Homo sapiens: one gene and its partners. The protein of the gene in region 3 purifies or fractionates together with the protein of the main gene of each other region. This does not show direct contact. Each region holds a gene or a part of one and is shown on either strand. Other genes may lie near its edges.

Evidence for each region. Proteins that work in one complex are often made in the same cells at the same time.
Region 1: the proteins of BCAP31 (region 3) and CDH2 purify together in Homo sapiens (affinity purification with mass spectrometry, with the first as the bait; one large-scale study listed by BioGRID). This does not show direct contact.
Region 2: the proteins of BCAP31 (region 3) and MYH10 purify together in Homo sapiens (affinity purification with western blotting; 2 studies listed by BioGRID, with this or other methods). This does not show direct contact.
Region 4: the proteins of BCAP31 (region 3) and CYB5A purify together in Homo sapiens (co-immunoprecipitation; 4 studies listed by BioGRID and IntAct, with this or other methods). This does not show direct contact.

The regions. Positions count from the first base shown.
Region 1 is NC_000018.10:27,992,131-27,995,630, forward strand, and holds part of CDH2 (cadherin-2 isoform 1 preproprotein), read right to left. Parts: intron 1,508-3,500; coding exon 1,370-1,507; intron 711-1,369; coding exon 525-710; intron 1-524. UniProt on the Homo sapiens protein: Calcium-dependent cell adhesion protein; preferentially mediates homotypic cell-cell adhesion by dimerization with a CDH2 chain from another cell. Cadherins may thus contribute to the sorting of heterogeneous cell types.
Region 2 is NC_000017.11:8,627,926-8,631,917, forward strand, and holds the start of MYH10 (myosin-10), read right to left. Parts: upstream 2,801-3,992; 5' UTR 2,729-2,800; intron 1-2,728. UniProt on the Homo sapiens protein: Cellular myosin that appears to play a role in cytokinesis, cell shape, and specialized functions such as secretion and capping. Involved with LARP6 in the stabilization of type I collagen mRNAs for CO1A1 and CO1A2.
Region 3 is NC_000023.11:153,714,388-153,717,887, forward strand, and holds part of BCAP31 (B-cell receptor-associated protein 31), read right to left. Parts: intron 1,303-3,500; coding exon 1,155-1,302; intron 1-1,154. UniProt on the Homo sapiens protein: Functions as a chaperone protein. Is one of the most abundant endoplasmic reticulum (ER) proteins.
Region 4 is NC_000018.10:74,264,464-74,267,963, forward strand, and holds part of CYB5A (cytochrome b5), read right to left. Parts: intron 1-3,500.

The sequences.
Region 1 (3,500 bases), on a different chromosome or scaffold from region 3:
ATTACATTTTTCTTCTATGGCTTTTCTGGTTTGTTCACTATCTGCCAATATTCTAATAGCTGTAGACATGAAAATAGCAGCTGTGAGGCATCATTCTTAATAGCTATCAATGGTGATCAAAATTTCAGAATGTGATATATCATGAATATATCAACTACACTAACAGTTAATGTTGTTCAGGCCAGTCCTATCCTCAGATTGGTAAAAACTGTCCAAACTGATTCAAAAACAATCATCAAAACTCTCACTCAAAACTCTCATTCAAAAACTCTCACAAAACTCTCATCATAAAACTCATTCAAAAACCCTCACATCAGTGATGATGTGAGAGTACTGATGTTGGCCTTAGCCTCAGCATAAATTAAACAGTAAGATATAACCTCCCAAATATATATCAGACCCACATCTGGAGATGTCTGAAAGAAAAACGTCCTAAGTTTCCATTGCAAAACAATGAGTGGGGGACATATATTGGTCCTTGCTGAGCAGCTGTTGGAGAGATCAGTGGCCCGAGGAACACTTACTTTGACCACGGTGACTAACCCGTCGTTGCTGTTTGGGTCGGTCTGGATGGCGAACCGTCCAGTAGGATCTCCGCCACTGATTCTGTACACTGCGTTCCAGGCTGGTGTATGGGGTTGATCCTTATCGGTCACAGTTAGATTAGCTACTATGATGTCTACCCTGTTCTCAGGAACTTCACCATAAAACTGCGAGAAAGACAAACCTCAGTCAGAGGAGGGGCATGGACCACTGAAGGACAACTTGTCTTGATGACCACACCGTCCGATTTTACTGCCCCATTAGATTTTTATTATCTACACTAAATGAGGAGACTGATAATGCAGGTAATCACAGCATTTATGTCTGACTTTAAAAATACTGTAACATTTTTCAGTAGTCCAATTTTTTTCCAAATTACCTTACAGTTTCATTAATATTAAAATCAGCATCCATTTGTGAGTCTCTGGGTGATTATGGTGGGGTGGGGGAAAGAACTTGTCTGTGCAAAATGATTTTACTCCAGATATGGATAATTATATGCTGACAAAGTAGCATAAATCAGTCATGCAGCTCATGCACCTGAAAATATTCATAAGCATTTTGTTGTAACAGCACAGTCTTTTTAGGACGTGTTTTCCAGGCAGCTTATTTTAACAACTTTAACAGTGGACTTGAAGACTACGAAGAAACAAATTACTTGGATGCCTCACGTAAGGCCCTGATGACAGAAATGTCCGAGTTAGCAGCCATGCTACTATTAGGTGAAGCAAGTTCCACCTCTATTTAACACATTTATTATTCATGACCAACCTTCTCAGTAACGAACTACAGACCCAAAGTTGTGTGAGTGACAGGCTGTACTCACCGTCATGGCAGTAAACTCTGGAGGATTGTCATTGACATCTGTCACTGTGATGACGGCCGTGGCTGTGTTTGAAAGGCCATATGTGGGATTGCCTTCCATGTCTGTAGCTTGAATTATTAACGTATACTGTTGCACTTTCTAAAAAGACATAAAGATAAGAACTTAAATGAAACTAATTCCTCAAGAAGACATAACAGTTGTTCTGTAAACGGCTCTTTATAATGCAAGGAGAGCATGGCATCATTCATTCTGATTAACATGACTTGAAATTTCGCAAGTGGAGTTTCCTTTAACTTATGAAGCACAGGTCTGGTCCTTGTCTAGAGAGATTTAACTGTGTATATTCACCTCTACTGGCAGAAAGGAATGCACTGCAGATGTGTGAAATTCACAGCTAAGCTGAAACCTCCATCTGGTTCCAACTTTTGCCTTTCTTCACTTCACGAGATTGTGATCAAGCATTCAAGTCATTTGGTTCGTATTTACTTTCTTCTATGTTAATTTCTACCCAGTTTAGGATACTAAAAACAATGAAGAATCTCAAGACAGGGAGAAGAACACATACATAATTCACAAAGTATATAAGCTTTCCTTTTATATGTTCTTACATATATTCTATTATTACAGGGTAGATGCAATATTTCCCCTTAAATTCTATTGATACATATGATTCAAAACCATATAGAAGAGATATACAGTATTCTTAAACAAAGTCAAAACTTGAAGGGTTTCCGTTTATTTCCATAGTCTTCTAACAGGGCATATATTTGATAACTGCATATTCAATGGATTAGGATTTGGGTATAACACTCATTGTGTCCACTGCTTTAAGCACAGACCTACAATGGATATAAATATTGATACATTTACATGTAGATGATTATTATTAGACAGGCATCCACTACTTTCAAATTCCAGGTTGACTGTTTTAAAAGAGCCAAATTAAGCTATAATATATCTAAGAGAAAATGCTGAGATTGAGAAGTCAGGCATTTGCTGAGTAAGTTTTATATTAGGAAAACCTAACTTTAAACAATATCTAAAATCATTTGGAATCTCTGTGGAAATTTGCAGATAGATCAAAAACAGTGATCATTTTCATAAATGTTAAAACATTCTGAACAACAAAATCCGCTACATACAAAAATAAACTGTCACTGCAAAGTGCAGTTTTCCCTGTTTCTAAATATAGCTAACATTATGAATGGCCATTCTTAAGGGATTTCTGGAGCTTAGATAGAACACACACAAATTGTAGCTTTTGATTTAGTTGTCAGGGGGAGGGGCAAAGAAAAGAAAGGAGTAGGAAGGAAAGCCAAACCGCCCACACTAGATTCTAAGTCTCTGTCTGTCCACCCAAATGCCAATCTCTAGCAGTTATTTATTTCAGTTATTTTTTGTCTTCCAAAAAGAGAAAATGTTACACTATTTTGAATTAAAAAACACACACGCAGTAAGAAATAATGTTGGTTGAGTCATTTAATTTTTTCTTAACCCACAGTACCTCACTATAATGTTAACATAGGCTAAGGGCTAGGTGCGGTGGCTCACGCCTGTAATCTCAGCACTTTGGGAGGTCGAGGCAGGCGGATCATGAGGTCAGGAGTTCAAGACTAGTCTGGCCAACATAGTGAAACCCCGTCTCTATTAAAAATACACAAAAAATTAGCCAGGCGTGGTGGTGGGCGCCTGAAATCCCAGCTACTCGGGAGGCTGAGGCAGGAAAATCACGTGAACCCAGGAGGCGGAGGTTGCAGTGAGCCGAGATCGTGCCACTGTGCTCCAGCCTGGGCGACAGAATGAGACTCCATCTCAAAAAAAAAAAAAAAAAAAAAATGTTAACATAGGCTATAATACTTCTTCAGTTGCTTTCCTTCCCCAATTAGAAGTGTCACTTCAGCTTAATGCTTTCATGGTTAGTGAGAGAATTTCGCAGGACATTCAGTTCAGCCTCCCAGCTGAAAACCATGAAAATAAAAACTTTTATGACTTTTGAAATGTCAGTTTTGTTAGCTGCTATTTGCAGAAACAGATGAACATTCTCAAAAAGAGAGAAAAAAAGGAAGCTTATTTCTTAAGAAGTTAACTCACATAGGTATTACATGAAAGTATAGTTATTTCCTAATGTCTA
Region 2 (3,992 bases), on a different chromosome or scaffold from region 3:
CAGCTAACAAGTAGCAGAGCTGGGATTAAACTCAGAGTTCAGCTCCAGAGTACACACTACAATGATGGAAGGTGACATGGAGGAAATTTTGAAGGGTGTGTAGTGTACAATGCTATATACTACCTTTCTACTAAATAAAAACCCAATCAATTACGGCTTAAAAAGTATAGGCTTAACCAATGAATCATCTGGCAAAGGTTTTATATATTTTATAGAAAAAGATACCCATAACTTAGGGGAAATAAAGACAAACAGGAATCTTTTTGTTAGCGAACATAAAGATGGTCTGAGGGTTATTAGTGTCATTTTAAATTGCTGCCTAATTACAATTAAATCATTTATCTGTGTATGAATTAGCCCCCTACAGAGCCAAAGTTGCCATCCCTTTCAGTGGTTTGACACACACACCCCTGGGGCTCCACCCCCAGGTCATTTTTCACTTCCAATGAAATGTCACCCAGCAAACTTTTCAAATCCCTCCCAGCACCTACTATGAGTGTGGACAGAGGCAAACAATTCAATTTTATGAACGGCCTGCACATAGAAAGGCAAACAAGAAGGATGGATAAATTATCCATGACAGAGCATCCATCTATAACAGATGAGCTAAAACAGAACTGTCCCAATTTGGGTACTGCTACCATTGAGGTCACTTACATGACAGGGCTGGACGAGTCTGCTAATTTATCAAAATCCTGCTCAACCCAATGATCACAAACACAAACCAAACACAAAAGGCCACTATTGCTACTTATGGCCTGCCCCATCTCCCAATTAATATCTCTATACTGTGTTTAATATTTCCAAAACTAGGATCCAACACCAGGAACTTTAATTCCTCACATGTGATAAAGTGCATAAACCGCTGAAGCATATAGTCTTCCACCCTACAACGTGCCCTTCAAGATTTCCTCCATCTCACCTTCCATCTCAGCTGCCTTCGTTATAATGATTTCCCTATGGAGCCCAAATGAAAAGCCAGGCTCGCAGGGGTCACATCCTTCTGCTGCCAAAGCTCGTGCTATATCGCACAATTACACCATATGCTTTCTCCAGATAAGGACGGGGAAGAACTGAATTTAAGATGCAGAAGTAAGGAGATGCATAAAATGGCCACTTTTCCAGAACCCGAGACAGGCAGGGCATACTTAAACATCAAAAGCAAGGGACTCAAAGAATAATTAATAAAGGCAGATTGATGAAGGAGATAAAACAATAAATAGATTATAAAGTTTTCCAGAGTGAGATACTATCAAGAATAATTAAACCTGACTCAAAGAATCCTCAGTTTCAACGTTAAAAAACAAAATCTCAGCAAAGCCAAAGTATTATGTTTGGTATTACATTATTCAGCGAAAACAGCAGTCTTTGTTTCATCTGCAGTCTGCATCTACCCCGCCTGCTTTCCCCTACCCCACCCCAGCCCACCCCACCCCCTTCCATCCACCGCAGTGATCTTGAAGGGAGCTGCAGAGGCCCTAAAGAAACAGAGATAACGGCTGTAGGCAGAGGCCACGTTATCCAAACCTCACCAGCCCGGTCTGACCCGCCGAGTCGCCAACCTCCTTCCTAAGGCCCTAGTTCCAAACAGGCCTGGCTGGGGGCCTCCCGCTTCCCAGGGCCGCATCCGCCCACCACAGGCCCACAAAGCCCCCACAAATGCCAGGACTCCGCGGCTTCAACTTCCCTCCGAACCAATTCCAGTCCGATTTTATGGGATCAGGGTGTGACCCCCAACTGCAGAAGGCAATGAAGAGACTGCGGCGAGCCATTCCCAGCTCGCTTACACAATAAAGGGATCCCGAGGCGAGTGCTGACCCTCCCCCCGGCCGTCCTGCTGCAGCGCGCCCCGCCACATTTCCCGCCTCGCCCCCTCAAACCGCCTGGGCCTCGCAGGGCGTCCACCCCCGGCCTAGGCGCTCCACGGAGGGCGCGGCAGGACGCCCTCCTCCCGCGCTCCTTCCCCGGCGCCGGCGGAGTCCGACCCTCCCCACGCCCGCGGCCGGCTCCGGAGCCCCTCACCCGCCGCGCGCTTCCCCGGCCGCGCAGAGCCAATGCCCTCCTGTCCCTCCACCCACGGGTCGGGCGCGCGCCGCCCGCCTTCCAAGCCCATGGTGAACCCCTCTGGTGCTGCGGGGGACCGGTCGCGCCAGGCCTAACCCACCCAGCAACCCACGCAGGGGCCCTTCCTGCCCAGCGCCCCCCCACCCTACCGCCGGGACTGCGCTTTCCAGCCCCGCTTAGAATCCCCTCTCTTCCTGGGAGGCAGACACTGGCTCGCGGGGCACGCCGAGACCTCCGCCGGGACACTAGCCCCTCGACCTCGCGCCCCCAGGGATCCCACCCACCGAGAACCTGGTCCTCACGTCCCCACCCCCAGATCTCCATCCCCCAGCCCCCCAGGGGTCGCCCTCCTGCACACCCAGGCCCTGACCCCCGCGGGTTTCACAAGGACTTCATTCCCCGCTCCTCCGGGAGTCTCTCCATCTCCACCCACTGAGGTCCCAGTGCCCCCAGCCCAGGACCCTGCTCAAACTAACCTAAGGTCCCCGCAGCACAAACCCTACAGCTCAGAAGCCCCTCTGTCTTCCCCAGCTCCCGCTTCGGTCCCCCGTTCCTGTCCTCCAGAGCCGCCCGGGACCCCTCAGCCCAGGAGCCATTCCTCCCTCCACAAACTGTCCCCCAGCCCTGGGCCGTGCACTCGGACCCGGGTAGCCGCACCTCTCACCTTCAGCCGAAGATGGTGGCGCGGGCGCACGTCCCCAGCCGCGACCACAGATCCAGCGCCTCAGTCCCAAACCCACCGCTGCCTCCGCCGGGCTCCTTTAGCACTGCTGCTCGGGGCTGCCCCACCCACCCCTACCCTCATTGGGCCAGCTCCACGCCCATCACCGCCGCCCCCAGACCCACTGGTTGGTTTGCGCGCCCATCTCCAAGGGAAGACGTTAGCAACCCGAACGAAGCTACCTTCCCGAGTCCGGCTCCCTCCACCCACCTGGAATGACGCTCATTGGCTCCCGCTCCCAGCCCAGGCCACAGAGGCCCCAATCTCATGGGCTGGCTCTTACGCCCGTCATAGGCTCCGGGAGGTGCGGCCGGGGCAGTGGCGCGGGATTGGCTGGCTCGTGCGTAGATGGACAGCTGAGGCTGGCTGAACGCCCGGCGATCCCGCGAGGCTGCGGGTGCGGGCCCCGCGGCGGCCGGCGCGCTGCGCTGACATTGGCTGTGCGGGCCGCGGGGCAGGTGGGCCGCGGCAGGAGGCTGGCGCTCTGACTGCAGACTCCTCGTCCTAGCGTCAGGCAGCCGCCGCAGCCGCAGCACATTCGAGCGCCCGGTCGCCCCCTGTGCTTGCGGCAGCCGGCATGTACCGCAGCGGGACGGGGTTCCACCGCGGAGTCGCGGGCCCTCAGCGTTGCCTGCAGGGGCGGGGCGGAGCGCGGTCCAGAGTCCTGACGTCACCCCCGGGGCTGCGCGGGGTTGGGGCCGCGGCGCTGCGACTCACCTGCAGTGGGGGAAGGAACGCGGGGGAGGGCGCTGCTCCGCCCATGCGCACAGGGTTTGGCCCGGGACCCGGCTGCGCTCCACGCTGCGGCCACTGTCCCGACCCCGGCCCCAGGCGGACTCTGCCGGGATCGGCCGAGCGCCAGGCGCAGGACACGGTCCTCCAAGGTCGCAGTTTTGGTGTTAGCGGGGTGAGAGGCTCTCCTGCCCAGCCTCCAGGCAAGGCTGAGATTCCAGAAGAATGAGAAGAGAACCGACCTTGGAGAGAAAACTTGGAAGAAACTTTATTCACCTCATTCATTCACTCGTTCAGTCGCTCCTTCATTCATTCATCAGAGCTCCCTACGTGAAGGGCTATGAGAGGTTCTTAAGAATATAAGGCTGGATTCCTGTAGCGCTGTCATATCCCCTAGGGCTTATGAAAACGTTGGAGACTGAAAAACAGTGGCCCCAAAATAACGAAAGGAAACTGGAAAAATCAAAGTAAATAA
Region 3 (3,500 bases):
GGGTATGTGTCTGACTCCTCCCAGCCTTCCTGACTTTCCTAAGTTTGAAGACAGCAAGCTTGTAGATCAAATCTGTGATCAAACCCATTATCTTGAAAAAAATGTGTTTGCCTTTTCTAGCTCCACCCCTCTTTCCAACTTGGTCGCAGAGAGTACCAGATCATCTAAACAACAGATTTTAAGACAAGTAGTCATCGTAGCGCCTAGTAAAGCAGGACACACCAGGTGACTAGAGAGCAAGAATCTCCTAGGCATGGAGATTCTTGAGTCTCGGGGCACAAAACCAAGTGGGGAATAACTGTCCATGAGCCTGAGAATCACTTGGTGCTATGGTCTGAGTGCCCTTCAAACTTCATGTGTTGGAATTTAATCCTCACTGCCGTAGCATTAAGAGGTGGGGTCTTTTGAGAAGTGATTAAGTGATGAGAGCTCCACCCTCAAAGCAAGCGCCTTTCCAATGCCTTCATACATGGTCTGAGCTCCCATCCACCTCCCAGCCAGGCCCTGCTGATCAGAACGGCTATGTGAAGCAGGAGGCAGCAAACAGGGCCCCAGGCTCAAATAGGCACTTCGTAGTGGTCTAGTTTTGCCCGACTAGTTACCCTTAGCCTTGATTAAGGTACTTAGTTTTACCAAAAAAATCATCAGAAATACTCTGGCTGCCATGGAATGTAACATGTCCTCATTACGAGTTTCACGTGGGGAAGGCCCTGAGGTGAGGAGAGGCCCAGCCTCTTCGTGCCACTTTTACCTGCTGTCCCTAGGTCAACACCCCGGACACAAAGAGTCCCCCATTCAGTCGCTCCCTTGTGAGCTGGACTCTGAAGGTCCTCTCCCAGAGGAGGGCAAGGCCTTACCGTTACATCTCACTCTCCATGCAAACAGACCGTGAGATAGTCATCTGTTTGCCTGAGAGTATGTGGTGTGTGAGGGTCTTCTGATATTTCAGGCAGCCCTCTCCTACTCTCCACGCTGCCTCTGGAGGTCAGGAGAAAACTATGTGGCTTCCCTAACACAGACAGGGCTTTGGGATCCAGGCCACAGACTGAGGAGGAATCAAAGTCACAGGGGGGAGACTGAGCCCACTGAGCTCGGTGTCCATGGCTAGCCCATGGCTCCTTTCACAGCACCTGCCCCCTCAACCCCCCACTCACAAGGACAGCAGCAAGGAAAAGCCAGCAATGTAGAGATTCCTCTGGGCACGGAAAAGCTTCATGTGGAAGTGCTCCATGGCCCCGGGATTGTTCTGGAGGTTCACCTTTTCCGTCACATCATCATACTTCCGAATTTCGCGCACGGCATCTGTGGTGGAGCAGAGAGGAGACACGGGCATTTAGCGGACACTAGGGCAAGATAAGGCCATACCAGGCAGACAGGCGGCATGAGACAGGTCAGACTCACTTCCCTCAAATCCGCCTCCCCAGTTCTTCCCACTTCTATGCACATACACCCCTCATGGGATGCTGTTATCAGAAGCTCCCACCCTCAGGCCAGGTGCAGTGGCTCACGCCTATAATCTCAGCACTTTGGGAGGCAGAGGCGGGCAGATCACCTGAGGTCAGGAGTTCGAGACAAGCCTGGCCAACATGGCAAAACCCCATCTCTACTAAAAATACAAAAAAAAAAAATTTAGCCCGGCGTGGTGGTGGGCGCCTGTAATCCCAGCTACTCGGGAGGCTGAGGCAAAAGAATCATTTGAACCCGGGAGGCGGAGGTTGCAGTGAGCCGAAATTGAGCCACTGCACTCCAGACCGGGGGACAAGAGCGAAACTCCATCTCAAAAAAAAAAAAAAGGAAGCTCCCACCCTCAGACCCACTCCTTCCTCCAGCTTTTCAATCCCTGGCCCCATTCTACACAGGCCCCAGGCTTGCTCTGCAGTTCACGATGCTAACCAAGCCTAAAGAGTTTCTGGAAATGGGGGTGGCTTCCTTTTCCCATGGTACCCTCACCGCGTCTTGTTCTGTTCATCTCAAGTTGGCCCATAGCCCCCCAACCCCCACAATGATAAGTTGAACCTGGAGATGGAAATGCCTGCTCCGGGGACCTAAGGTGCTTAAGAGTCAAGACCCAGGCCAGATGTGGTGGCTCACGCCTGTAATCCCAACACTTTGGGAGGCCAAGGCAGGAAGACTGCTTGAGGCCAACGAGTTCAAGACCAGCCTGGGCAACACAGGGAGACTCTCTCTCAACAAAAAAAAAAAAAAAAAAAAAAAAAATTTTAAATAGCTGGGCATGGTGCTGCACACCTGTAGTCCCAGCTACTCGGGAGGCTGAGACAGGAAGATCGCTTGAGCCCAAGAGGTCAAGGCTGCTGTGAGTTACGATCACACCACTGCATTCCAGCCTGGGCGACAGAGCGAGACTCTGTCTCGAAAAAGCCAAAACAAAACAAGCAAACAAACAAAAAAATAGGAGTCAAGACCTGCAGGATACCAGCTAGGAGTCAAGGGTTTCATTTCAAAGCTTTACAATGGGTTTTATTATCTATAATGTTTTATTCTGATTACGAAAGGAATTCACACTCATCGAAAGTTCAAACACACCCAAAATGTAGAAACGGAAAGGATCCCATAACATAATCACATCTAGCAGTATATACAATAAAAATGTGGTCACATCTAAAGTCATTTTTAGTCACATTACACTGTTACCTGCTTCGTAATAGACATCCATCTCTGAAATTCTCTTTAAACACATTTTTTGGGTCCATCTCTCCCAAAGTAGACTACAAACTTCATAAGAGCAGAAATCTTTTATACTATATTCCCAGGGCCTGGGATAGCTCTGGGTGCAGAGTGGGCACTGAAATAATTGCTGAGTCAGTGAGCAGCCTCTGCTCCTGAAAGAGCCGCTGTTAGACATATAGAGCTCCAGTTAAAAATATATTTATATTTGTCTCTAATGTAGAAATTGAGCCACGCCAAACCTACTGCTTTTCCCCATGCATCCTGAGACATCGTTTTAAGTCAATACACTAAGATGTACCCAAAGAATGCTCTTAATAGACTCCCATATGAGAGGAGCAAGGTATCACTGTATGGGTATCGAGGTTCTTTTTGTATGGTGGGTTACAGGGTCTCACTCTGTCACCCAGGCTTGAGTGCAGTGGCACGATCCCAGCTCACTGCAACCTCCACCTCTCAGCCTCCCCAGTAACTGGGACCACAAGTGTGTGCTACCACACTCAGTTAATTTTTTCTTTTTCTATTTTTGGTAGAGACGGGGTTTCGCCATGTTGCCCAGGCTAGTTTCAAACTCCTGAGCGCAAGCAACTGCCTCAGCCTCACAAAGTGTGGGGATTACAGGCGTGAGTCAGGGCACTGGCCTCATGGGGTTCTTAATTTCCGGTTTTAGGCTGCTTAGTTTTTATGTTGATCTTGCATTATAAAAATCTGCCCATCCCTCAGCACCACGAAGCGAGTACTCTCAAACGCTGTTAGCAGGGGTAAAAACAGCACACCTGTATAAAATGCAAAATGTTCATACCCTCGGGTTCAAC
Region 4 (3,500 bases), on a different chromosome or scaffold from region 3:
TGCCTAAGATGACGATTCACAAGAGGCACGTGTGTCACTTCCCTCTGGAAAGCACCCTGCGTGCCGGCAATGCACGGGCAGCACAGACTGTCAGATAGATGAGTCCCTGCCTTTGCAGAACTCACTTTCTGGTAGGTAAAAACAAAACAAAACAAGTAACTTGCTGAAGATGCTGCCACCAGGACACAGTGCTGCCAGGACACAATGGAGGCACGGAGGCAGGGGTTCAACTCCACACTGGGGAGAGGCGGGAAGAGCCTCTTGTGGAATAAAAGAGTTTTAGTGCTTTCAGCTGCTTTAATATGTGAAACAAGGATGGTCATGATGCAGGGAGGGAAATTTTTTCTCCAAGATGATTGACAAGTGGGGATTAGTCACAGGACAGAGGTAAGGAGGTCTGGGGATTCTCAGGCAAGGGAAGCAGCTCTCAGAGTAATAAAAAAGAAAGCGGAGCTTGGGCAAAGCATCCTAAATACGTACTTTTGTAGGAAAAAAAAAAACTTCTTTAACTGAGCTTGAATGTTATTTTAGATTCATCCTGACCTTGAGCAAGTCACCTGCAAGTGTCCAACAACTGCACAAAAACCGGTCTCCCTTGCAGAGTCGACTGTGGTCAGTCCTTAATTTCTCCCAGTAATGAAGACATCAGGGCACATCACATTGTAGGAAGGTGGATCATTATTCTGATTTGAAACTGTTTCTCTTCCTACTTGGTCTAAACATACCTAGTGCTAAGGACATCCACTCTTTTTTTTTCTTTTTATAACATTTATCCATCTATGCTGCAGAAAAACTGGGAAGCACAAAGAAAAAAATTAAAATCACCCATCATCTTGCCTCCAGAGAGCCAGACATACACACACACGTATGTGTATGTAATGTTGGATAGAAACTGTGATGGTTATCCTATGCATTGTTTTAGAAAATAAAAAGGAGGTGATACATGGTACAGAGGCAGAGGTGCCTAGTGGTTACCACTCACTCTGTGAACTTGGGAAAACACGCATGTAGTTTTTGAGGATGAAATCTATGAACATATGTGTCTGGCACATCGTTTATGCTCAGTAACTATTACCCAGCATTTTTATTAAACACTTTCCAGTGTCTCTATGTTAGTCTGTTTTGTACTGCTATGAAGAAATACCTGAGACTGGATCATTTACAAAGAAAACAGGGGTTACTTTGGCTCTCAGTTCTGCAGCCTGTACAAGCACGGCACCATCATCTGCTCGGCCTCTGGTGAGGCCTCGGGAAGCTTTTACGCACAGTGGAAGGCCCGGGGGAGCCCACACATCTCATGGCGAGAGAGGAGGTGGTCCCAGGCTCTTTAAACAACCAACTCTGCCTGAACTAACAAAGTGAGAAGTCACTCACTACTGTGAGGACGACACAAAGCCATTCATAAGGGATCTGCCCCCATGACCTAAACATTCCTGCTAGGCCCACCTCCAACCCTGGAGGCCACATTTCAACATGAGGTTTGGAGGGAACAGGTGCAAACCATGTCAGTCACTAAGTATTCTTCCTCAACGGGACTTTGACATGGCTACATGCTGTTACATTGTATAGGCATTCCCCAATTTACTGAAATGTCTTCTACTGGGGCCATTTAGATTATTAAAAGTCCACCTTAAACAGGCATGGGAATGCACGTTAGATGTGCAGACAACAGAATGGCTACCTCAAAGCCAACCCGAAACTTCTGGATTCCTCGCCAAGGCTGCAGCAATAAAAACATGGTTTTGTTGATTCCAGAAAAGTCTGCTTAAGGTTGGACACTTCCACTCACCTACTGAGTAGAGAGAAGCCACATGGTGAGATATAAAATGACTCAGCCAGGACCCACAACTATGTAAACTCACAGACTGCTGTTACTCGCGTAGGGACCGCTGAACTCAGGAGCTGCCGTAACTTTTGATTCCTGTTAAGGATATGTCAGTGGAGACAAATCGCCCAGAGTCAATCATTATTTGCCAGGGACAGCCGATGTTCAAAGGACGACTTCGAGTGAGGTTAAAAACATGGACTTGGCCCTTTATAAAGAATTGCAGACTTAGACAAGTTTTTAGATACAGAATTCTGATCTTTACAGTGCTAAAATGGAGAAAATACACATTCAATTTCATGGGGTAATTCCACAGTCTTAATCTGAAACAGAAGTACAACAGGGCAACTCCTCACCTTAATTTTTGACCAAGAACAGCAACAAGGGATAGGTATGTATGAATCTACCTATCGACCTCTGGTTTTTACCTTGCCTAAACCATTTGTGGGGCAATTTTCTAACAAAAAAAAAAAAGAGAGAGAGAGAAACATCTTGGATTATATTGGTTTCACTGATAACTCATGTAAAATTTTAAAGATTTAAAAAACTAAAAAAAAAAAAAACATAGCTTAGAATAAACTAACTGATACTAAAATATTTTCACTCCATCCTAAAGGTCTATCTTAATAATTGGTAGGAAAATCAAATCCTAAAAATTGATATTTTGGAAAAAATAACTCATCTTGATAAGACAGTAAAAGATGAGGGTGGCTTTTTGTAATATCTAATATTTTCCTTGAAATATATGTATTACGGAGAGAGAGAGAGAGACACTTGGCCAAGTAAACTGAATCTAAATCATGTTTTGAAACTTGTCAATCTTCTCACTCTTGTTAGTAAATACATGCAGCAATTTTAATAAGCACACATCACTTTTTTTTTTTTTGAGACGGAGTCTCGCTGTGTCACCCAGGCTGGAGTGCAGTGACGCAATTTCAGCTCACTGCAACCTCCGCCTCCCAGGTTCAAGCAATTCTCCTGTCTCAGCCTCTGGAGTAGCTGGGACTACAGGCTCCTGCCACCACACCCGGCTAATTTTTGTATTTTTAGTAGAGACGGGATTTCACCAGATTGGTCAGGCTGGTCTTGAACTCCTGACCTCAGGTAATCCACCTGCCTCGGCCTCACAAAGTGTTGGGATTACAGGCGTGAGCCACACATTTGGAGACTAAAGAAAATGCTCTTCTTTGCCTGTCAGCATTCCGAAGAGACAAAGAAAAATTGGGAATGCTGGTGTTTATGCCATCGTGGTTATGCCCAGAGATAAACGTGTGGCAGCGGTGTTATGTCCTAACCTTTGGGCAGGTTATAGCACTTGGGGGTGGCCTGAAGAAAAGGCAAGGCAGAAAGTAGTAGAATAACAGGTAAGTAAACTTATCTGATGATTATCTAAAAGATTTAAGAAAAAGACCAAAATGTGTGGTTACACATAGGTAAGATTAGAGGTAACAAAAGAAGTGAAATTCTCCCAAAGAGCCTGAGCCAAATGGAAGCTGTGGATCCACTTCGGCGAAGTCAGTAGCAGAAATCTGTCCTCCATAACGCACTCCTTGCTAAGCCTCTACTCATGCGACCATGTGTGGGAAGTGACCAGCTGTAGTGCCCAGAGAGAGGGAGAAAGGTGGGGAGAGGATGTCGCGGGTCAGTAAGGAGGACCCAGAAGTGGGGATGGGCA